Regions from separate parts of the Homo sapiens genome. Here all the other regions are linked to region 2. The links come from fine-mapping of genetic effects on gene expression. A gene starts in region 2. Each other region holds a variant in brackets. All regions are shown on one strand. Distances are from middle to middle. Region 1 overlaps ARV1 (ARV1 fatty acid homeostasis modulator). Region 2 holds the start of FAM89A (family with sequence similarity 89 member A). Region 3 has its middle 25 kb from the start of FAM89A.

Region 1 (8,182 bases), 51 kb after region 2:
AAATATCTACTACAGAGTAGTTGCTATAAGAATTCCAACCCATTTAAAAACAAGCCTGGTTTTTAATAGTATATACAAAATATGGACATATAACAGTTTATCTTTAGAAATTTTAAGAAGGGCCAGGAACAGTGGCTGATGCCTGCAGTCTCAGCACTTTGGGAGGCCCATATGGGAGGACTGTTTGAGCCCAGGAGTTCAAGACCAACCTGGACAACAGAGTAAGATACTGCCTTTACATAAATTTTTTTTTTTAAATTAGCCAGGCACAGTAGCATGTACCTGTAGTTCCAGCTACTCAGGAGACGGAGGCAGGGGGATCCCTTGAGCCCAGGAGCTCCAGGCTGCAGTGAGCTATGACTGTGCCACTGCACCCTAGCCTCGGTGACAGAGCAAGACCTTCACTCTTAAAAAAATAAAAATTAAAAAAAATTTTTAAGAGGCTTTGCTTTAAGGTTTAAAATCATATTAGGTTCTAGTTCTTGGGCTAGATGATGTGCTCAAGGATGTTTTCAGTAGTATTATGTTTCATAAGATAAAAAGGTTAACATATTCTTTTGTATATTTCAAATATTTTAAATTGTTGCAAAGTCCAAATTGTATACAAAATTATCGATAGACTGGACATCATGGCGGTTAAGCTGTCATAAGCCTTAGTAATTACATAATAATGGAGGCGGAGATTTTTCTATGTATTTTCCATGGATATATCTCTAGTACCTAAAGTACCTAAAGTAGTAACTGGCACCTAATAAGTATTTAAAAATATTTCTTAAGGGAATGAATAATAATGAATAGTGAATGAATAATCACCGAGTGTAACTGATGGTGACTTGCTCAAGTTAAGAGTGCGTGGATGAATGTATGCAATCATTCATTCAATCAGCTGAGCAAATATTTATTAAGCACCTGGGCCAGGCACCTAAGTGCTTGAGCTACAACCGTGACTAACACAAAGAGCCCTGACCTCATTCAGTTGACATGTTAGTGGGGAAAGGCACTAACAAAAGATAATAACTTCTGTGATATGTTAAATAGTAAGTACCATAAGAAAAACAAAGTAGAGCCGGAACAGGAGATCAGGAGTGTCAGAGGTACACTTCATTTAGAAAGTGTCATTTTAGCCAACTCTTGAGGGGTATGCAGGAGTCAGACATCTGGGCATCAGGGGGACAGGCATTCCGGGCACAGGAAGAGCCACTTCAAAGGCCTTAAGGTGGAAGCTCATCCAGTGTTTCTGAAGCAAGTTAACTAGATGGGGAGGGTCAGAGTAGACATGGGAGATGACAGCTGTGGATAAAATGAGAGACGCAGTGGGAGGGGCAGATTCCAGTACAAGGCCCACTGTAAAGACTTCAGCTTGCACTCTGAGTGAAACGGGGAGCTACTGTGTTCTAGCACAACAGTGACATGATCTGATTTGGTTGAAAAGGACTACTCTGTGTTGCGTGCAAATACACAGTTGGAGAACTGGGCTAGCAAACAAGGAGGCTACTGTAGTCATGCAGGTGAAGGATGAGAGTGGCCTGCAACAGTGTGGCAGCCGTGGAGGGAATGGAGGGTAGCAGTAGTATAATAGTAGAAGTGTGGCTGGGCGCAGTGGCTCATGCCTGTAATCCCAGCACTTTGGGAGGCAGAGGCGGACGGATCACGAGGTCAGAAGTTCGAGACCAGCCTGACCAACATGGTGAAGCCGTCTCTACTAAAAATACAAAAATTAGCTAAGCATGGTGGCACGTGCCTGTAATCCCAGCTACTCGGGAGGCTAAGGCAGGAGAACTGCTTGAACCCAGGAGGCAGAGGTTGCAGTGAGTCAAGACCGCGCCACTGCACTCCAGCCTGGGCGACAGAGTGAGACTCCGTCTCAAAAAAAAAAAAAAAAAAGTAGAAGTACTTTGAAGGTGGAGCCAATGGGATTTCCTGATGACCTGACTATGGGGTATCAAAGAAAGAGGCATCAGGGATGACTGCAAGGTTTTCTGGTGAATGCAACTAAAAGAATGGAGTTACAACTGAGAAGGAGAAGGCTGTGGTAGAGGCAGAGAGATGAGGAGCTCAATTATGGGTATGGTGATTTATTAGATATCCAAGTGGTGATGTTGAGAAGGCAGAGGGATGCAGAGTCTGGAGGTCTGGAGAAAGGTCTAGATGGACATTTGAGAGTTCTCAGCAGACAGGTTACATGACCAAGAGAGCGAGAGCAGACAGAGAAAAAAAGAGGACAAAAGAAGACACACAGCCCAGAAATGTGATATTGGAGTGGACTGGAGACTTAGTATTACTAAAGTAAGATTTCATTATAATCAAAGAGTTGAGAAGCAGAGAAGCATGGAACTAGCAATAAAATAGTCACAGAAATTAGCTCAACACAATTCTGACACTAGGAAAACAATAACTTATGAAGTGAAATTCTGAAAAGCACTTCCTGAACTTAAGGAATTTTGAGGAGTAGCCAAATTCCCTGCATGCACTCAGATAAGTAACAAGTAACAAAAAATACCAAACCCTATTAAATACACTGCATTAGTATAATGCAATTAGTACAATACATTGGGTAATGTCTGGCAATTATCTCTATTAATAAAGATAGGACTTAGCTAACTTTCAGATTGGATAATCAAAACTTAAACATTAAGAATTTTATTGGCCAGGCACAGTGGCTCACACCTGTAATCCCAGCACTTTGGGAGGCTGAGGTGGGAGGACTGCTTGAGTTCAGGAGTTCAAGACCAGCCTGGGCAACACGGAAAGACCCCCCATCTCAACAAAAAAATACAAAAATTAGCTGGAGGTGGTGCATGGTGTGGTGGTGCATACCTGTGGTTCCAGCTACCTGGGGGGGCCGAGGCAGGAGGATTGCTTGAGCCCAGGAGTTCAGGGCTGCAGTGAGCTGTGACTGTGCCACTGCACTCCAGCCTAGGCAACAGAGTGAGACCCTGTCTTAAAAAATATATAATAATAAAAATAAAAGAATTTTATCAACAATATTGTGCTTCGAAATATTTTATGAAACTTTCTAATCCGATAAGCATAACTACTTCCATACCATATACGTGGTAACAAATTTTTAAAAAGCAGGTGATTCAAACACACTCACCTCGTAGGTTAGTAGTGGTAGAGCTGAAAATTTCATCTTAAGTCCCATATTAACTAGCTCTTCTTACCAACAATTAAGACTACATGTCTTAGTTTTAACCAGATTAGTTAAGTAAGAATAGTTAACTAAGAATGGAAAGCATGGCATCTCCTTACCTAAAGCAGCAATCGCAAACATTCTATAGAAATCCCATTCCTTAGCATATCTGATCAAGTCATCAGGGGCAGTATTCTGGTTGGAATCTTGAAGCTGCCACCACCTCAGGTATGCTTCACAAAGCAAACAAAATATGCAGAGTTTTCCATGGATCTGATAGTCAAAGACATTGCCATTCAATTAGGTAAGGAAACCCAGTTGCACTAGTATCAACAGGTACAGAGTATTTGTGGCATCCCACCTAGTCACTTTTCAAATTCAGGACTGCCCAATTAAGTGGCTAATTGTAGTCATTTTGTAATCAGTGAGTTTTAATCAGCAATGTCCATCAGAAGCACATGGGGAGATTTTTTTCAAAATTTAAATGTCTGAGCCCAGGTCCTGATTGAGAATCTTCATAGTACAACATAGACATCATACTTTGAAACAGTTCTGGGGGGATTCTAATGTGCACCCCTAGTTAAGAATCACTGCTTTAAATAATAGTTCACCTTTCATTATACATTTTTGATTTCTGTCCTTTATACAGAATCAAGCAAAAAACTTATGTGATTCATGTATATGTGGGAACAGCAATAAGAGAATAGACTTAATCTGAAGATTCCATGATATTGAATAAGAAACTATTAGTCTGAACATCAGTTTTTTAAAAATATCTCCAGCTGGATGAGTATGACTCAATATGTTAAAAGAGAACAATTAAAACCTAATTCTTAAAAGTCTGAAATTTTGGCTAAAATAAAAAATACTAGGCAACAAAAATTGGCTTTTTTCTATGTATTCCTCCTTCAGGTTGAACTTTCTCCATCAATATAAAGTGAGGAAGAGCTGGGCACAGTAGCTCATGCCTGTAATCCCAATACTTTGGGAGGCTGAGGTGGGAGGATCACTTGAGGTCAGGAATTCCAGACTAGCCTGGTCAACATGGCGAACCTCATCTCTACTAGAAATACAAAAATTAGCTGGGCTTGGTGATGCGTGCCTGTAATCCCAGCTACTTGGGAGGCTGAGGCAGTAGAACACTTGAACCCAGGAGGTAGAGGCTGCAGTGAGCCGAGATCACGCCACTGCACTTCAGCCTGGGTGACAGAGCAAGACTCCGTCTCAAAAATAAATAAATAAATAAAATAACAGGACCGCCAGTTAAAT[T/C]TGAGTTTCACACACACCATGAATCCATTTTTATTGTATAAGTATGTTCCATGCAATATTTGGGACATTCTTATACTAAAAAATTAATTCATGGTATATATGAAATTCAAATTTAATTGACTGTCCTGTATGTTATCTGTCAACTCTACCCAAACTATTAAAGAGCTCACAATTCAATAAACTAAAAGTTTATTTTGAAAAATTCAACTTTATAAATCAGGACTTTGATTAAACTGAATGTTATTTACCTTATACATTCCTTTAATAGCAAAGTATAAAATGCAATAAATTATGTTTTAAAAAAACATTTTTCTTTTAATGTTTGCTTAACTCATTTAGGTATAATTCTCTCCCTACCTGGATATGTCTAATTGTATTCTGTTAAAAACCAGTGATGATTGTTTCAATTTACTAGCAGGTAATTCAGATCATGGCTTGTCAGTTTCCTGCCAGTGACCATATTCTTAAACACTCACTAAGCATTGTGCACCTTTCAAAATCAACATCTATTATTTCTAGAAACTTCCAGATATGTTGCAATAAAAGACCCACTCTCACATTAGAATTTCTTTTCCTCTTTTATAATATTCTTTACTTCTGTTTAAAATTCTTATTATTCTTTTAAAATGTAACAGCATCAAATAAAATTAAAAAATGAAATTATCACAACTTACATTTATTTGAGTATTGAAAAGAATATGTCTGTAGGCCTGAGCTTTGCACAATATAGCATTAATCAAGATGATAACAGGATCATACTCGATATATTTGTCTACAGGTTTCTGGCAGGATTTCTGAAATAATACAAGATAATATTAGAACAAGCAAATGTATACTTTCTGAAATCCTCAAGGATTTCAAAACAGCAGAGTCTATTTTGGACACAGATAGCAATATGGCCATATTAGCAATTATTTATATAAACTTCCATTCAGATACAAAATGTTCATCTATATAAGAAAGGGTTTCAGAAAGGACTAAATATAATCTTCTAGGCTAGGAATATTAATATTTTAACGTCATATTCAAGAAGCTAAAAATATATCTAATTTAAAGACTGAGTTTAGGCAGGAAAGTATTCCAGAAGATTTTACTTTCAATCTACAGAGACTCTATGTCCAATTCCACTTTCAATTTGTAGCAATTATTACAAAATAAATATATTTATAATGCACTTTCATTGATAAATTGTTGCCTCTTGGCTAGATGCCCCTGACTTTATGGTTCTTGGCACATGATTTGGAGAAAAGTACTCAGCAGTTACCTTGTCCCCAGAACTACTGAGAGCTGCAAGTAGGTAAAGAATGGGGCATGATCCGAATGATCCTGAGGTGGCCGGTAACAGGGGAAGCCTGGGTTTTTCTCCAGTAACATCAAGGATATGGAAAGAAAATGGTCTTTCTCTGCTAGAGTAGAGACAGACTCTACTGTCTGTACAGTCTGGAGAGTGCTGGGCTGTGCAAGGAACTAGGCTGTGCAGCCTAGCTCTAGGTTCCAGAATCAAGGCTCCCTTGGCTCTTAGCAGTTCACATTAAATGGCTTTATTCCCCCCTGAAGGGTCACCAATTTTGAGTTCAGATTCTCTAGACACATGTGATTACAATGTTACCAAATTCCAACATCACTAGAACATAAAAAACGCAGGTATACACAAACAAGCTCATTAGAAATGTGACCTCTAAAGCAGTACTATTCACAAAAATGCATCAATGCTACCATTCACTTTATAAAACTACAGCAGTCCTCCCGTAGCCACAGTTTTGCTTTCTGCAGTTTGTAACCCGAGGTCAACAGCATTCTGAAAATATGAAATGGAAAAATCCAGAAATAAGCATAAGTTTTAAATTGCATGCTGTCCTGCTCCACTGTCCGGGATGTGAATCATCCCTTTGTCTAGCGTGTCCACGTTGCAGATGCTCCCCGCCTGTTAGTCATCTAGTCGCTGTCCAGGTTAACAGGATTGAGGATTGCAGTACTGCAGTGCTTGTGGTTCAAGTCACCCTTCTTTGACTTAATAATAGCCCCAAAGCATGAGAGTAGTGATGCTGGCAATTTTACAGCCAAAGAGAAGCTGTAAAATCCTTTAAGTGAAAAGGTGAAAGTTCTCAACTAATAAGGAAAAAACCAATCTTATGCTGAGGTTAAGATCTACAGTAAGAATGAATCTTCTACCTGTGCAACTGTAAAGAAAAGAAATTGTGCTAGTTTTGCTGTGGCATTTCAAACTGCAAAAATTAAGGCCACAGTATGTGAGAAGTGCTAAGATGGAAAAGGCAGGGCCAGGTGCCATGGTTCACATCTGTGATACCAGCACTTTGGGAGTCCGAGGTGAGAGGATCGCTTGAAGCCAGAAGTTCGAGCCCATCCTGGGCAACAAAGCAAGACCCTGTCTCGGTCTCTCTCTCTCAAAAAAAAAAAAAAAAAAAAAAAAAAAAAAAAAAAAAATAGGAAAAGTATTACATTTGTGGGTGGAAGGCACGAACAGAAACGTGTTCCGATGGATGGTAATTGGGTTCCATACTATCTGTGGTTTCAGGCACTCACTGTGGGTCCTGGAACATATACCCCAAAGAGAACGGGGACTACTGGAATGGCTACAATTCAAACGCATAACATTTGGAAACTCTGAGAAGATAAAATAGAAGAGTTGCGAGTGTAAAAACCTTCTAGGCTGGCCTTTTAATTACATTAAAGTGCTGGAAGAAAAATGAAGGGCACTGAAGAATACCGACCCTGCAATTCAAATGTAATAAAACATTGGATGTGTTCCCAATTTAAATAGCTTCTCCACTTCATTTGTGTCATTACAAGAATAGGTATGTTTTCCAGTTACCGAGTGATCCAATGAAGGGAGACGTGCTGTTACCTCAAACTTAAATGTGCTTAATCAGGGCCAGGCATGGTGGCTCATGCCTGTAATCCCAGCACTTTTGGGAGTCCGAGGCAGGTGGATCACGAGGTCAGGAAATCGAGACCATCCTGGCTAACATGGTGAAACCCCATCTCTACTAAAAAAAAAATACAAAAAGATTAGGAGGGCGTGGTGGCAGGTGCCTGTAGTCCCAGCAACTACAGGATGAGGCAGGAGAATGGGGCGTGAACCCAGGAGGCGGAGCTTACAGTGAGCTGAGTTCACGCCACTGCACTCCAGCCTGGGCAACACAGCAAGATTCCGTCTCAAAAAAAAAAAAATTCTGCTTAATCAAACTGACGCATAAGGAGTTAATATTTTTGCAGTTCTTTACCTGAGCAGGGAGTAAGCCAGAATCTAAACAGAAGCCCCAGAATCAGAAATTCCATGTCCATGACAAACAGCTGTTTGATAGGTCTCCCTTGGCTACTCACATGGAACACATCTCCTTCCTTTCTACATGCAAGACTGGGACACCAGAGAGGCTGCTTCATGTTAAAATGGAAACCCTAAAAAGTCAGGGGTCCTCTCTCTGTCCTTTAAATATTCTCTAAAACCCGTTTTTGGACAGCATCACAAGTCTAAGGCTGGGGATCTGGACAATACTTGGAAGGAGGTAGGCAGAAACCAGCACCAGGAGACACAGCAGCTGTTATTCCTTTTGCATTCATTTGTTTGACAAATGTCTTTGGAGTGGCTATTACATGTATAACAATCGTTCTCTTTTCTTGGCCATTTTATGGACCAGGAACTTCCAAGGTGCTAGATATTCACCTTCAGCCACAGTTTCTATCCTCAAGGATCTAACAGTTTAGAAGCAGAAGACAAACATGCCTCTATGATATGGTCTCATGACCACAGTCATCAGA
Region 2 (8,182 bases):
GAAAAGGCAAGCTCAGTTGGACTTCTGGTGTCTTTTTCAGGTTCTTTCTAGTCTATTAACAACCTAAGTTATTAAACTTGAGAATGATAAAAAAAAACAAAAATAAATAAAACGCACAAAAAGACTCTTTAGAGTTCCCAAAAGCAAACAACAAGTGGGCAGAGATTAGAGGTGGGGAGGAACCTAGTGGCTGGGTTAATGGAAGGTCAGGATGGAGGCACATGAGAATAATCTCTAAGTAAATGCCTGGATACTGGTGACTCTGAGGCTTGTGCTCCAAGGCCCAGGTCCCTAACCTTGATTGACAAAGTCTAAGAAAAGATGTGGGTTAATGAATAGAGCACTGGATTAGAAGTTTGTGTTTTCTGATTTCCAAGAGCCTGTGAACAACAAAACAAAACAGAAAAGACTAATTCAGCTGCATGGGTGATGATGAAGACTCACTCTGATTTGAACTCAGAATACAGATGTTTTGCTATGGTCTGAATGTATGTGCCCCCTGCCAGCCCCAAATTCATATGTTGAAACCTAACCCCCATGTGGTGGTATTGAAGTGAGATCTTTGGGAGGTGTCTAGGTCATGAAGGTGAAGCCCTTGTAAATGGAATCAGTGCCCTTGTAAAAGAGGCTTGAGGGCGCTCCCTGGCCCCTTCTGCAATGTGAGGACACCCAGAAGGTGAAATCTATGAGGAATGAGCTCTCAGCACACACGTCAGCTGGTGCCTTGATCTTGGACTTCCAGCCTCCAAAACTGTGAGCAATACATTTCTGTTCTTTACACATTATCCAGTCTCAGGTATTTTGTTATAGCAGCCTAAATGGACTAAGGTAATGTTTCAGTGGCTTAATGCAAAAAAACACACTGTCAGAAGTTATTTACTACTTCTCTCTCATTATAAGCATGAACTTTAAAAGGTACTTTATATTGGCATTTGAATAAACAGACACTAACATTCCCCAAGGATGTCAAAATATTTGTTATATAATAGTTTCAGGCTTGTACAAATAATGTCTTCACCAGCACCACAGAAATTCTGTAGAAACTTCTCCTTACCCTGGGATATTATTTGTTGATACTGATTTCAATACTCTTACCTCACTGAGTATAGGCCAGAACGCAGAGCCTGCCTTTAAAATGTTAAGGTTGGCCTGGCGTGGTGGCTCATGCCTGTAATCCCAGCACTTTGGGAGGCTGAGGTGGGTAGATCGTGAGGTCAGGAGTTCAAGACCAGCCTGGCCAAGATGGTGATGGGTATGGTGGCGGGTGCCTGTAATCCCAGCTACTTGGGAGGCTGAGGCGGAGAATTGCTTGAACCCGAGAGGTGGAGGTTGCAGTGAGCCAAGATCGCGCCACTGCACTCCAGCTTGGGCGACAGAGTGAGACTCCATCTCAAAAAAGAAAAAAAAAATTGGTAAGGTTGGCATTGTCTAAGTTGTGCCTCTTTTCTCGAGTCCTGACACCACGGACCTCATGCTGCTGTCTAGCTGACCCTAACCTCCTTTTCCTTCTGTAATCCGTAATTCTCTGAAGTATGTGCTTTAAAATGCTTTCAGTGCCCCGATACTTCAAAGTGATTTCTTTTCTTATTTCACCATCACATAGCTGAATCTCCTATCACCTACCTTGAGTGATTTCTGCTAGGTACTACAGGTGAGACTGCATTGTAACCAGTGAAATTAAAGAAATTCATGCAGGCTGGGCGCGATGGCTCACACCTGTAATCCCAGCACTTTGGGAGGCCGAGGTGGGTGGATCACCTGAGGTCAGGAGTTCGAGACCAGCCTGGCCAACATCGTGAAACCCCATTTCTACTAAAAATACAAAAATTAGTCGGGCGTCGTGGCACATGCCTGTAATTCCAGCTACTTGGGAGGCAGAGACAGGAGAATTGCTTGACCCAGGAGGCAGAGGTTGCAGTGAGCTGAGATCACGCCACTGCACTCTAGCTTGAGTGATAGACTGTCTCATAAAAAAAAAAAAATTCATGCTAAGGTGTGAACCGAATGTCAAAATGCTTCCCACCCCTTCCTCTCCCTTACTCCCACACAGGCAGACTGGTCACTCTCCTGAAGACACCCACCGTTTACATAAGTGAATGAATAAATACCTGACATCCAGAAATGTGACTAGGTAATTAGTAGAAGGTGAGGCACAGTGAAGAGGCGGAAAATTCTGGGCAGTGGGTGGGGTGGGAAGCCTGGGTGCTGTCAATCACACCGCCTGCACTAAAGCTTCTTCATATCAGTCTCACCCACTTGCAACCGTCCAGGGAGAATATTGTGCCAATTTCAAAGACACTGCTTCTGGGGTGGGCTCTAGGAGGTGGTAAAGGGTATAAAACAACCCAAAGTGCAGGGCTCTTTTATGTTGGGTGTCTGAAGTGCTCAGAACACTTTATAATTTTGATCCCCTTGAATGTAGCTAGAAAATTAAATCCCTTTATAATTAAAGCCAATAATGAATGGGCATTAAAGTTATCCAATCTATACACTGCATTAGTTTTTAATCTGCGGTTGGGCTGTAGCGTTTACTTCTTGATCTTTTCTATCTCTAATCTGGTTATAACTGCCTGTCATTTTTACTTTTCCTGGGAGGGGCAGAGTCTCTCTCTCTCTTCTCTTTTCCTCTGAGGTGTGCGTCGTGTTTATTTTTGCCTGAGCTGATGGATAATTTCCGAGATTTAATCCCTTTCTCTGGTTTCCTGACATTTCCACTTAGAGTTACTCTTGTGTTTATGGCCAGAATGAAAGGCATGTTTACTAGTGTTTTGAAGTTTCAAAAGTGGGTCTGGCGTTCTTGCTGACTGCTGCGGGTACTGCTGGACAAGGCCGTGCTGAGAAGGCCAGCGCGCCCGGCGGCAAGGAGCGACCTGCCCGGGTCTGGGGCCCCCAGCCGCCCCCCGCGGCGAGTGGGAGGCAGCAGGAGGCGGGCTGGATTCCGCCCTCGGGGAGGGCCGGGGGTCCTGGGACCAGAGCCAGGCCTCCTGCCCTCGACGTCCTGCCGGTTGTGAGCCAGAGCCTCGGTACCCCCACCCCCTGCAACGGCCTGCTTCGTGGGATCTGAAGCTGGGCCGCCCCCTGGGCAGGGCAGGGATCGGTGAGGCAAGGAGCTGAGGAGCGCTGGCAGGTAAGGGGGAAGTCTGGAGCCGGGTTGGAGGTGAGCGGGCGTTGAGGGGTGGGACAGAGGGAGTGGAGACGGGGCTGGGGGCGAGCCAGTGAACTGGGGGTGGCACAGAGGAGGTGGGAGCAGAGATGGGGGTGATCCGGAAGCCTGGGGTGGGGGGTGAGTGGGTTCGGAGCTGAGGGTGAGCCAGTGAGCTGAGGGTGGCACAGAGGGCGTGGGGGCGGAACTGGGGGTGAGCCGGGAAGCTGGGGGTTGGCACAGAGGAGGTGGGGACAGAGATGCGGGTGAGCCGGGAAGCTGGGGTTCGGGGTGGCGCGGGTGAGAGGGTTCGGAGCTAGGGGTGAGCCGGGAAGCTGGGAGGTGGTTCAGAGGAGGTGGGGACAGAGATGGGGGTGAACCGGGAAGCTGCGGGTCGCGGGGGGCTTAGTAGGTTCGGAGCTAGGGAGTGGCACAGAAGGGTTCGTGACGGGGCTGGAGGTGAGTCGGGGGGTTAGAGGGTAGTCACGCGGAGTTGGAGATGAATTAGGGCGCTGGAGGGGCGCGAGGGAGGAGGAGACCCGGGTGGAGGCGAGCCCGGCTGCTGGACGCGGACGCCACCCGGACCCGGGGCCCGCGCAGGGGCCTCGAGGAGAGGGGGCGGGGCCGGGGGGGCGTGGCGCGGGAGGGGAAGTGGGCGGGGCACCGCCGGGAAGGGGGCGGGCCGGGGGAAAGCCTTGGTTCGCTGCAGCGGGGCAGGCGCGTGGCCGGGCCGCGGCGCGATGAGTGGGGCCCGGGCGGCGCCCGGGGCCGCGGGCAACGGCGCGGTCCGGGGGCTGCGGGTGGACGGGCTGCCCCCGCTGCCAAAGAGCTTGAGCGGGCTGCTGCACTCGGCGTCGGGCGGCGGCGCGTCTGGGGGCTGGCGGCACCTGGAGCGGCTGTACGCGCAGAAGTCGCGCATCCAGGACGAGCTGAGCCGCGGGGGCCCGGGCGGCGGCGGGGCCCGGGCGGCAGCGCTGCCCGCCAAGCCTCCCAACCTGGACGCCGCTCTGGCGCTGCTCCGCAAAGAGATGGTGAGTGGGGCTCCGCGAGCTGGGGCTCTTCCCGGCCGGGCTCGCCGTCCCGGGAAAGTTCGCGGGGACCGCGCTCTGTCCGGAAGTCCCCGCGCCCACCCGCCCTTTCGGGCTCCTCCGCCCCAGGCGCCGGCGCCGTCCTCCCAACGACCCCCATTTTTCTCGCGTGCTCCGTGCCCACGATTGGAACCCCCGCGGGAGAGCCCCGCGCGCAGAGGGCGGCTTTCTTATGCCCGGCGCCCTCAGTCCGGCCCCGCTGGCTCGGAAACCTGGGCGCCCGGAAGCGCTGTGCGGGGTTCGTGCCTGGCCTGGGGGCGGGGGCGGCCTTGTCACCTCTCCCCGAGTGAAACAGACCTTCCCGGTGGGGGAAAGGCTTTCACAGCGGCCCAACGGATTAACGCGATTGCGTTTTCCTACCACGAAGAGGACAACTTTTGTCCGCCGCCAGTGTAGACAGCAGATTGGAACAGCCCGGCCCCCTTTCCGGCGCCCCAGGCCGCGCGTCCGTGATCCGATTACCGCGGGATGGCCCCGGCGCACAGATGGCTGCGAAAGCAGACGCGCACCCCGGGCGAGGGAGGCGGCCGGGTCCCTCAGCCCCGCGAAGCTGATTGCCCAAACCCTCTTGAGAAAGGTGGGAGGTGGCTGTCCTCCCGGTCTGGGTGCTGTCCATGTGAGTTCTTCGCCTTGTGTCTAAGCTCCATACCATGGGCTCAGTGTTTCTCTGTGCTTGGGAAGTACATTAGCTGTTTGTGGACCAGAACACACATGATTTAGGGTGACGCTAAAAGTAGGACAAGGGCAGGGATTTAGGCAACAGCGAGTCTTTCCCCAGCTTTCTCGGCCAGGCGTAGGCCAGGCAAGAAGAAATCAAAAACTTTTCCTCTTTTCTACCATCTTACTGGCCCCCATCACCTCCTCCCAATCCCCTCGTTTTAAAAGCCTCCCTTTCCATTCACCTCGTCCAGGTTGTCTCCTTTCCCTATAGGTAAATTGTTAAGAAATCTAACATTAGGAAAGCTGCCTTTTCCCAAAACTAAATTTGCCAAAAAATAAATTGTTATAGGAATCTTTTAAATATGTATCTAGTGCATTTAAGATATTGTTTAGAAAAATTCAGGGTATGCATACTTTTTTTTCAGGAGCATTATCTGTTCTGAAAACTAAGACTTAATTGAATTCAGAAAGCAGCCTTAACACTTTTAATCAAAGAGATATTGTCTTCCTACTCTGTAGCTGGCATTGAAGTGATTTCCAATTCTCACTGAAAAGATTTTCTAAGCTTCTTACAGAACCACTTAAATTCCAAGCCAACCGTTTTTAATTTATTAAAAAACATTCATTGACATAAGCATCACACAGCTGGTGAACTGCATTTTAATTAGATAAATCTACACGTAGTGTGTTTACAGTCTGAACTTGGACATAGCAGAACCACGGGGGTGAAGTAGGAAGATCATCTTTGATTATTTAAATTCCATACTTGAGCAAGAGATAGAAAAACCTCGGGGCCGCTCCTGTTGTGAAGCTGTGGTTTATAAACATGCTCTGGAGTCTTGCTATGGTGGCTTGGGAGTCAACGTGCCATTCCCAGAAGTATTTTTCCAGGTCCCTCCTGGTGTGACTGAAGCACAACCACATCCGTATAATTACGCCTTGGACCAGAGCTCTCTGTAAGCCTATTTGAAGCACAAGAAAAATAAACAGCCATCTTTGGTCTGCCTGGTATTTAGCTGAGATAAAGATAAGATATGGCTGCAGGTTTTGACAAGTTCCTTTCAAGAAATGTCACAAGGCCTTTAAAGTTGCCCAGAGAATCTTTCGGCTTTTTAATTGATTTACTGACTTGGGGCCATGGGGTCTGAGTGGACAACTCAAGCTGAGACTCCCTCTGGGGAGGCCTTGCAAAACAAGAACTGGGAGTTCATTCCTGAGATATCTGCAAAATAGTTTGTGTTGATCTGTTTAAATTGAAGGCCTGACGTCAAATCTGTGGCAGGGGACATAACTAGATGTCATGGTAGAATGTGATAAATGCCTTAAAGAAATTTTTTTTTTTAAAGCAAGCATAGAAAGAGGGGCAACTTCTAATAGGGACAGGGAGCAGGGTGGTGTGGAAGACCTCAGAAGGCGACAGAATTTCGACAAGGGAAAGAGGCACCAGGAAGGTAGCTGCGGAGCTGGAACTGGGAGTGCGCCAGTTTGAAATGTGAGCAAGAAGGGCCTGGGCAGGTGGACCGAGTGGACTCTGAGAAGCCTGAGTAGCAAGGATGGGCATTCAGCAGGAGAATGGTATTATCCCAGTTGGACTTTGAAGAAATGAATTCTACAGCAGGGTGCAGAAGGGAGAGCTGGACTTTGGAGGCTCAACAGGAAGATGAGAGGTGTTCATGGGAGAGGTGATGGAGTCCCCAGCAGGGTAGGGGGCTTGCTAATGTGAAACAAGACTCATGTGGGAGACACTTTTCTGAAGCCGAAGCTGGAGGAATTACTGAGTCAAGGAAGATGATGAAAAGGGGATCAAAGATAACTTAAGCTTTTTCATGGAAAATGTAGCCAAGCAAAAAATTAAAAATTACAGTGCCAGCACCTAGAAATAATCACTTTTAGTATTTTGGGATATCTTCTGTTAGGTGCAATGTAAGTGCTTTCTATATAGTATCTTATTTAATGGTATAAATTCTCCATGAGATAGATACTCAAAGTCTGTTTTATATTAAAGAATTGGATGCTGAGAGTTGAACTCCCATAAGGTCACAGACCCTACCAGGTCTCTTTGGCTCCAAAGCCCTATTTAACCATTGCAGTCTGCTGTCTGTGCACATGCATGCACTCTCACACACACACACATACATATATACAACACATTGATCACATATATTTTGGTTTGCTTTTTGGGCTGCACATTGCAATTATTTTCCCAGTCAAGATATATTATAATGACTTCAGTGAGTGTGTAGTATACCACTGTATGGCAGTTAGCAAGGTTTTGAAGCTTAATAATCAATCACTGGTAAAGTGGGGTTCATTATGGCACTTGGGGAGTCAGGAGGAGTAGCTGCTTTAGGGAGGAAGGTAATTTGTCATCGCATCAGCTGAAGAGCATGTTAAACATTTCAGAATGTGGAGCTGGAAGCTGGAAGAGAGGTTTTGGTCTGGAGATAGCCAGTAGAAGAGATGGTTGGAGCTGAGGGAGTAATACCATCTCAATGGGAGGAGAGGCCATTCGGATGCCGAGGGTGGAGGCTGGGAGAGCTGGAGCCCAGGGCTGAGAAGGGTCTGTCTCATGACTGCTGATGCCCTCCTCTGCTTGGAGAGTTGTGGTTTCAGCTCCACGTTTCAACACTTCCTGTTCTAGTAACCCCTGTGAAATTCTGCACTACTCGTAAGTCCTCGTCCCCTCCCCAGAAGGGCCCACTTGGAAAGCTTCAAGGGTCACACAGATAGTTATTGCTCTACAGACCAAAAAAGTCCTTTTGAAAAAGTTGATGATGATGATTTTTACATCAGAGAATATCTTTAGATCACGTTTAAGAGATGATTACTGGGTGTATGTTAGATAGCAAGTACTGTGGATGGTTTAAGGGTGAATAGGAAATATCTAGATGTTAAGGGGCTTATCACACCTGGTAGATGTGGGCATCTTTACAGAAAAAGAATTGCTTTAGTTTAGACTAGTTTTCATTTTTCATGACCAAAGACTCTATATTAGTAATAGAAACTTAGTTTGAACTAGCTTTTTCAAAAGGACAATCTTATAGACTGGATGTATACAGAGACAGGCTAGAACTAGGGCTTATGGGGAATCCAGGAAGTCCACTGAGGTATTCTCTTCCCCTCCTCCTCTGTTTTGTTTTTTCCCTCCATTTTGGAACCTGGCCTCTAACAGTGGCCACCCTCAATTTTGGCCTTGCTGCTTAGTTGCAGTTTGCAAATACTGTGGAAGGATGCCAATTGGCCTAGCTTAGGTGGCCTGGCCAGCCTGGGCCAGCCAACAGTGACAAGGACA
Region 3 (8,182 bases), 25 kb before region 2:
TTGTCTGAGGTGGGGAGGTGTCTTGCGGCACTGAGCCCCTAAGCCGTGAGGTCTGTGCTAACTCTGGGTAGTTTGTGTGAAAATGAAATTGAATTGTAGAACACCCAACTAGTGTCCAGAAAAATCAGAAAATTGGTTGTTGGTTTTGGAAAACACCCCAGCCCTACACACTTCCAATAAATCCTCTTTGCTTATTTGCCTGAGTTGGTTTCTATAGCTTTCAGCCAAAGAACCTTAACTAATAAGCTTTTATTGAAATAAAATCCTACCCAGAAACCCAATAAATGCAGAAAGTAGAAGAAATTGTGTCTGCTCTGTTGAAGCAGACGGAGGGCGTCAGTGCAGAGCTCTGCTATGCCACATCCTCACTTCCTCTGCCTGGGTGCCCTGGAGGGGCTCCTGAGAGCATCGGGGGCTTCTGTGAACACAGTGTAAAAAGGACTGCAGGCCAGGCGCAGTGGCTCACAGTTGTAATCACAGCACTTTGGGAGGCCAAGGTGGGCGGATCATGAGGTCAGGAGATTGAGACCATCCTGGCTAACACGGTGAAACCCCGTCTCTACTAAAAATACAAAAAAAAAAAAAAAAAAAAAAAATAGCCGAGCATGGTGGCACACGCCTGTAATCCCAGCTACTTGGGAGGCTGAGGCAGGAGAATCGCATGAACCCAGGCAGTGGAGGTTGCAGTGAGCTGAGATTGCGCCACTGCACTCCAGCCTAGGTGACAGAGTGAGACTCCATCTCAAAACAAACAAACAAGCAACAACAACAACACAAAAAATGACTGCAGTAGGAAACGACACCTCCATCATGGGGATTTGGGGCTCCCAACTAATCAGTGTGCTACCTCCTGTCTAGACCCTAATCCACAGAGAGCACACAGAAGGATACAAATGAGGGCTATAACATCAGGGTTTGCAAAGCAGAGGTCTTTCTGGGGCCTTCAAATTTTGTCCTGCCCCTACCAGCCCACCCCAGTGATGAAAGACCGCAACAGTCAGCTTGCAAGCCCTGAACCTCCTCTGGTTTAGTTCAACAGTAAGTCAGATGAAAGTGTCAACTAAAAATAAAATTCTAAGCCTTGGCCCCGAGCAGTGGCTCACACCTGTAATCCTAGCACTTTGGGAGGTGGAGATGTGCGGATCACCTGAGCTCAGGAGTTTGAGACCAGCCTGGACAACATGGAAAAACCCTGTCTCTACAAAAATTACAAAAATTAGCTGGGCATGGTAGCATGCACCTATAGTTCCAGCTACTCAGGGGGCTGAGGCAGGAGAATCTCTTGAACCCAGAAGATAGAGTTTGCAGTGAGCTGCGATCATGCCACTGCACCCCAGTCTGAGTGACAGAACAAGACCCTGTCTCAAAAAAAAAAAAAAAAAAAATTCTAAGCCCCCCACCTAACTGAATGGACCTTTGCTTGGCCATGGGAAGCCCAGAGTAACCTTGAAAACTGAGTTCTCAGCTGTGATGGGATAGCAGATCAGACACACATTGCTATACCCTCTCCCTCAATAACTGCAATGAAGCTTTTTTCCCTGAGGGCTGAACAGAAACCAGCCCTTTCAAAAGACTCTACCACTGAGATCAACCAGCTGCTGGACACTGCTTCTCCTCTTTTGCCTGATAAGAGATCACCTACCATGGATTGGCTCTGGCCAGTTTTCGGAGAATGCACAGTACAGGTTTTCATGCCCTCTGCTTCACCTTTTGATGTCAGAGGACTGAAAGCTGCCCCTTCGGATCATGCTAATGTTGCCTTTTTATGCATGGGACCCATAAAGGGGCATGGAGCTCAACTGTGTAGTGTACACTGCTCTTTTTATGAATATTCACGTCTCCTCCTTTAGCTTATTAAATATGTATGTTAGGCCACCCTGCCCAGCTTAGATTCCTGTTCCCTTTGCCCTTCCCTTGAAGTGTTTGTTTCTGGCTTCTGACTGGAGGCTACGCTTCCCAGCCTGTCAGAATGGCCACCTTGCAGTCTGCAACCCTTTATGAGAAACGAAGCTCTCCTTTCCAAACATAGGAACCTAGTTATTCTTCGGTTGACATGAGACACATGCAAAGACTATGTTCTCTCTCTTGGTGTAACCTCTGTGATTAGGATGCTGCTGCCATCAAGAGTCCCAGCTTCTGTGCCAGATGGAGGAATCATATTTGACCTTAGGCCCCTCCAAATTTACCTGAGCAAGTACCTACTAGACATTCTGGTATTCTCCCTTGAAAGCCCTCCTGCTGCTGCTCTCTAGCCCTAGGGGTGTATGTTTTGAGTGGACAAACAGTTGCTTGTGTCAGCTGTATGTGTCAGGTGGACTTGCAAAGCTCTGGTATCTATAGTGATAGGGAAGGTGTAGGGGTCTCCCTGGGCCTTGTTCCCCGAGAGTGGCTGTGGCCTTTGATCCACAGTCAGGCTCTCCAGTCTTCACCAGCATTCTCAGTACTCACAGCACCTACTTAGGTTCAGATGCATTGATGTGTGTGGAGGGTGGGGTTGTCATCAGCAAACTGAGTTCTTTCCCAATTTCCCATCAGTTGCAAAGAAAGGACATCTAATTGGAAAAGGCAATTGGGTTTTATTTATCGGCCAGAGAAAGGAGAAGGGAAGCTCTCATTCCAAAGGCATCCTTTCCCTGAGCAACAGGAGGCAGGGTTTTTAAGGACTGGGTGTGGAGTGGGAGAGGTATGTTAACATGTGCAGGGTGAGACTCCAGACACATGGGCATGCTTCCTAAACATGCTTCTTCATACATTGCATGTACACCAAATAGTGGTGATCTTCTCTTAGGGGAGGGGGTTTTAGCATTATAACGCTATGTTAATCAACTAAAGACAAGAGGGGTTGCCTGTTGTAATTTGCACCGGTTTCTCCTGGATCTTATCTTCCTCTGGTGTTTGGTTAAGGGTCAAGAAGTGCTGGCAGCATCCTAGGCCATCTGGTTTCTTTAAGCAATTGTGTCTATAGATAAAGGCACTAAAGAAAAACAGTAGGGAAACGGAACTTTCCCAGTTATTTCATCAGAGCTACCCTGGTAACAGGATGGTGGGTGTGAAGAGTTACGTTTACCCCTATACGATAGTGTGGCTTTCACTTTGGGATGAGATGTCTGCAGTCTCACTGTCAGCCAGTGGTTGGAGGAGAGTTCAAACCAAGATGGGTATGATTGTAAGGAGTTGCTTTTCAAGCTGGTCCCTCCACGTCCACGCCCATCCCAGCACCTCCCGGAAAAAACAGTTCCTCTAGAAGAACTGATAACAACCAACTGCCCCTCAGACCCCAGCTGTTTTCTTTGTTCTTAGGCACAACAGTTGACCCACACCCTTTCCTCTTGGGTCCGCTCACCATAGTTGTAGGATTTTCTTCTGTTTCACCTTTGCACG[C/G]CTATTCTTCAGGGAGCTAGGGGCGGGCAATCCCTGGGGCTTTTTCTTTTCTTTTTTTTTTTTTTTTAGACAGAGTCTTGCTCTGTCACCCAGGCTGGAGTGCAGTAGCGCAATCTCAGCTCACTGCAACCTCCGCCTCCCGGGTTTGAGTGATTCTTCTGCCTCGGCCTCCCAAGTAGCTGGGACTACAGGTGCCCACCACTATGCCTGGCTAATTTTTGTATTTTTAGTAGAGACGGGGTTTCACCATGTTGGCCAGGATGGTCTCAATCTCCTGACCTTGTGATCTGCCTGCCTCAGCTTCCCAAAGTGCTGGGATTACAGGCGTGAGCCACCGCGCCTGGCCCCTGGGGGCTTTTTCTCCACAACTCGCCTTTGCTGGGTGATAGGACAGATTATCAGAGGAAGAGAAATTCCCCAATAATCCTTGAGAGTGGTTCAGGGGTGACTGAAAAAGGCTGACATGACCTGGGCCCCAAATAGGAGAACAATTTGGCCTTAGAAATCAGTTAAGGGTGTTAGCACCGATTAGAACAGAACACTGCTCCATCACATTAGCTGGTAAGAGGTCACGTAGAGAGGATGGTCAGAGGGGTGCTCGATAAATATTCTTGGCAGCCACCTCTCCACCTCATGCTACTTTACTATCTGTGGATGAATGATTTTTGTGACTTTGGGTGGGCCAAGGATTCCTCCACGTCACAGCCCAACTCTACTTTAAGGTACTGCAGCACTGGATAGAATTTATGGGCAAGATTGAGGTTAACAGACAATGTAGCAAGATGCTGAGCAGGAGAGTGGATCTTATATCTCTGTGTAGGGATGTTAAAGATAGCCTCTGCTCCCAAAGAAAAGGAGGGAAGGAAGGGAGGAAGGGAAAGAAGGAAGGAGGGAAGGAGAAGGGAGGAAGAAAGGAAAGGAGGGAGGGAGGGAAGGAGGGACAGATGGAGAGGAAAAAGAAGAAAAAAAAAGAAGGTTGGGCACGGTGCTCACACCTGTAATTGCAGCACTTTGGGAGGCCAAGGCAGGTGGCTCACCTGAGGTCAGGAGTTCGAGATCACCATGGCCAACATGGAGAAACCCTGTCTCTACTATAAATACAAAAATCAGCTGGGTGTGGTGGCACGCACCTGTAGTCCCAGCTACTCAGGAGGCTGAGGCAGGAGAATCGCTTGAATCCGAGAGGCGGAGGTTGCAGTGAGCCGAGATTGCACTACTGCACTCCAGCCTGGGTGACAGAGTGAGACTCTGTCAAAAAGAAAGAAAGAAAGAAAGAAGAAAGCAATCCAAAGTTAGAAACCATATGCAGGAGAAAATATGTTAGAATCCAGGGAACCATAATTGTGTAAGTCTTTTTCAAAATCAACTCACTAGGTTTTTCTGTAGGAAACAAATCAAAAAGAGGAGAGCAAGCAAATTAAATTTCCTTCTGCTTTCTTCCGAAAGAAACTTAATCTCACCATGAGAGAAGATAAAGAGTTCACTTTCAGAAAACACTGATTAGAGAAGCTGCATTTTTTTCACACAAGGGCCTGTGGACCAGCTCAAAGTGAGTATCTTGGACATTTACCCCACATCCTGCCTCCCCTCTCCCCATCTCATCTGCCTTGGATGTCTGACTTTCCCCGTTACCAGCAATTACTTATAAATGGCTGCTAATACTGAGGTGCCAAGTTACCCAGTTTTAACCAAAGAAAATTTGGGCAGAAGGCAAGGCCTACTGCAAACACATTTGCTTTTATTTTTGGTCATTGTACAGATGGAGTTTCAGATTACTGTTTCCTCCCTTCCCTTGAAAGCAGCTTTGTCTTTTTCCTGGACTGAAGAATTGCATTGATTGTAATCACCAAGGATTTAAGGCAACCATTTGTAAGGCGGCATCCACTTTTATGGCCCACATCATGAAAACATTGCAGGCTAGAATTCTCTACCCATATCCAGCCATTTGTTGCTTTATAGTCATATAGAGACATGAAATATTGCTTATTTGATGTATTGGTTTGCTCGGGCTGCCATAACAAAGTAGCACTGACGGGGTAGCTTTAACAACAGAAATTTATTGTCTCACCGTTCTGGAGCCTGGCAAGTCCCAGATCAATGTGTCGGCAGACATGATTCCTTTTGAGGGTTCTCTCTTTGACTTGCTGATGGCTGTCTTCTCCCTGCATCCGTCATTTCTCTGTAACTGTCCAAATTTCCTTTTTTTTTTTTTTTTTGAGATAGAGTCTCACTCTATCACCCAGGCTGGAGTGCAGTGGCACGATCTCGGCTCACTGCAACCTCCTGCCTCAACCTGCCGAGTAGCAGGGATTATAGTTGCCTGCCACCACACCAGGCTAATTTTTGTATTTTTAGTAGAGACGGTGTTTCACAATGTTGGTCAGGCTGGTCTCAAACTCCTGACCTTGTGATTCACCCGCCTCGGCCTCCTGGAGTGCTGGGATTATAGGCGTGAGCCACCGTGCCCGGCCAGGTTCAAATTTCCTCCTCTTAAAGGACATCAGTCATATTGGATTAGACCCCACCCTAGTGATCTCATTTTATCTTAATTACCTCTTTAAAGACCCTAACTCCAAATAAGGTCACGTGCTAAAGCACAAGGGATTAGAATTTTAACATATGAGGTTTTGGGGGATATTGCTCAGTCTATAACATTTGGGAAAAATTTTTACTATTCTTTTGACTTTAGCCCTTTCAAAGAACATCCAAGAGTGCTGGGAAAAACCCTTGTTTGACCGCTTCTGCATATGCCTGTTGAGGATTCTTTGGTCTGTTCAGTGGGAAAATGCTATCTTAAGTATTATATATGGAATATTCTGCCTGTGGTAAACCATGGGATGCATTTTCTCATCTGATGCTTATCTAATGATGTCATAGGGCTTCAGAAATGAATGCATGGAAGTGAGGAGTAAAAAATAAAAGATCCCCTAAGCACTTAAGACTTCTGTGCATAGAAATGCATGAATAAGACCATTTAATGGGTTTCTGAGGCTCAGAAGTTGCCGCTTGTGCGTCTCAATCAAGTGTTTGTCTTTGAGCAGCACATTCTTCCATGTCAGGGATGTTTATTTTTTTGCTTTGTCCTTAATGAGACTGTTCTATTTAGGTTTAGAAGACCTTAGACACAAAGGCTGTGAGTTAGAGTCATATAAGGTAGCATTATGATTATTCATTATGGTATATGAATTTCATGTTTTACCTATTTTATGAAGTAAGAAATTCCTAACCTTATTGAAGAAGAGACATCTGATTCAGCCTTGCACATGCTAGTAGAGGATCAATTCCTTAGTCCATGGTCTAGGAAATCAGTAACCCAAAATAGTTCTGCCTCCACGGCTGAGCCAGTGTTCCCTGGCATATCATTATTAGCCTTCTCTTCTCACTCCACCTGGTTTCACCTCCCCGAGCCAAGCTCATGTCTCCCACATGTAATTCTCTAGCTGCTATCTCTCTTCTGAGCTTAGACCCTAGAGATTCCAGAATATAATACTTTTCTACTTAATTTTCTCACAGGTAACTTGAACTCAACATGACCCAAATGGAAACCATTGTCTCACTCCAAAATTTCCTCCTTCTCTGCCTACGTAGTCCCTATTTGATCACATCACCCCACCATGCATCTAGCTGCCCAGTCCAGAAATCTTGCAGTTATTTATTCTCCCTTTCCTCTCCTCCCTCCCATTCAATTTTCCAGTTCCTGTGATTCTACTTCCCTAGGACCTCTTGAATACATGCCAGCCTCTCTTTCCTCATTGCGGCTCTCCTAGACTCTGGCCTCAGCAGTTCTGCACTGGGGTACTGAAAAACTTAACGAGTGCAGGGCAGTATCAGAGTTAGTAGTCCATTTTCTGTTGCCTATAACAGAATTCCTGAAACTGGGTAATTTATAAAGAAAAGAAATATATTTCTTACAGTTTTGGAGGCTGAGCAGTCCCAGGTCAAAGGGTTGCATCTGAGGAGGGTCTTTTTGCTGGTGGGGACTCTCTGCATTGTCTGGAGGTGGTGCAGGGCATCCCATGGTGAGTGGGCTAAGCACACTAGCTCAGGTCTTTCTCTCTCTCTCTCTTTTTTTTTTTTTTGAGACAGGGTCTCACCCTGTCACCCAGGCTGGAATGCAGTGGCACAAACACGGCTCACTGCAGCCTCCACCTCCCAGGCTCAAGCAATTCTCCTGCCTTAGCTTCCTGAGTGTCTGGGACTACAGGCATGCGCCACAAGGCCCAGCTAACTTTTTGTATTTTTATAGAGATGGGGTTTTGTCATGTTGCCAGGCTGGTCTTGAACTCCTGGGCTCAAGTGATCCACCTGATCTTAGCCTCTATAAGTGCTGGAATTACAGGCGTGAGCCACCACACCTAGTCTTATGGGCTACATCTTAAGGCTGAAACAGGAAATATCCTATAACAAATGTACTTTATCTCTAGAAGTTGATCTCTTGGCAGCAGCAAAATCTACCCAGACAGCAGAACTGTGCAGTGCTCCTCAGCGCTTACTGGTTAAATCGCCATAAGAGGGTTAATATATGCAGGAAGAGTAGATACGCAATTGGCGTAGTCCATGATTTTGAGATGCTTTGGAAATGAGAAGGCCTCTTGTCCTCAGCAGAAACCACACTTAGGAATGGTGAGGATGATAGGAGAGAATGGAGTGAGGGAAGGGGACCTGGAGCCGGAGCAGAGACCACCCCTGTTGTCCAAGTATCGGGGGATCCATCCCATAGCCCTCTTTACACATAAATCTCAGGCCCAATGTAAAGCTGCTTGTCACGTGTTTCTTCCCTTGTGTTTGTTTAAGAAGAAAA

The links. PIP is the estimated chance that this variant, and not a neighbour inherited with it, causes the effect. A credible set is the group of variants that fine-mapping cannot tell apart.
Region 1: its variant is the best candidate, but not a certain one, in a credible set for the expression of FAM89A in whole blood (TOPMed, PIP 0.71).
Region 3: its variant is the best candidate, but not a certain one, in a credible set for the expression of FAM89A in skeletal muscle (GTEx, PIP 0.57).

The regions. Positions count from the first base shown.
Region 1 is chr1:230,985,334-230,993,515 of GRCh38, reverse strand. It overlaps ARV1 (ARV1 fatty acid homeostasis modulator), which reads right to left. Exons shown (of 6, transcript NM_022786.3): 2 at 5,077-5,196; 3 at 3,253-3,406. Among named protein-coding and RNA genes, the nearest start is that of ARV1, 10 kb to the right of the region's middle. The variant T/C (reference allele first, on the strand shown) is at 4,403.
Region 2 is chr1:231,035,912-231,044,093 of GRCh38, reverse strand. It overlaps FAM89A (family with sequence similarity 89 member A), which reads left to right and starts at 3,840. Exons shown (of 2, transcript NM_198552.3): 1 at 3,840-4,173. The coding sequence starts at 3,883. RefSeq lists silencers at 3,679-3,788, 4,049-4,098, 4,739-4,818 and an enhancer at 4,481-5,162.
Region 3 is chr1:231,060,751-231,068,932 of GRCh38, reverse strand. No RefSeq gene overlaps it. Among named protein-coding and RNA genes, the nearest start is that of FAM89A, 25 kb to the right of the region's middle. RefSeq lists a cis regulatory region at 2,868-3,338 and a silencer at 5,036-5,330. The variant C/G (reference allele first, on the strand shown) is at 3,382.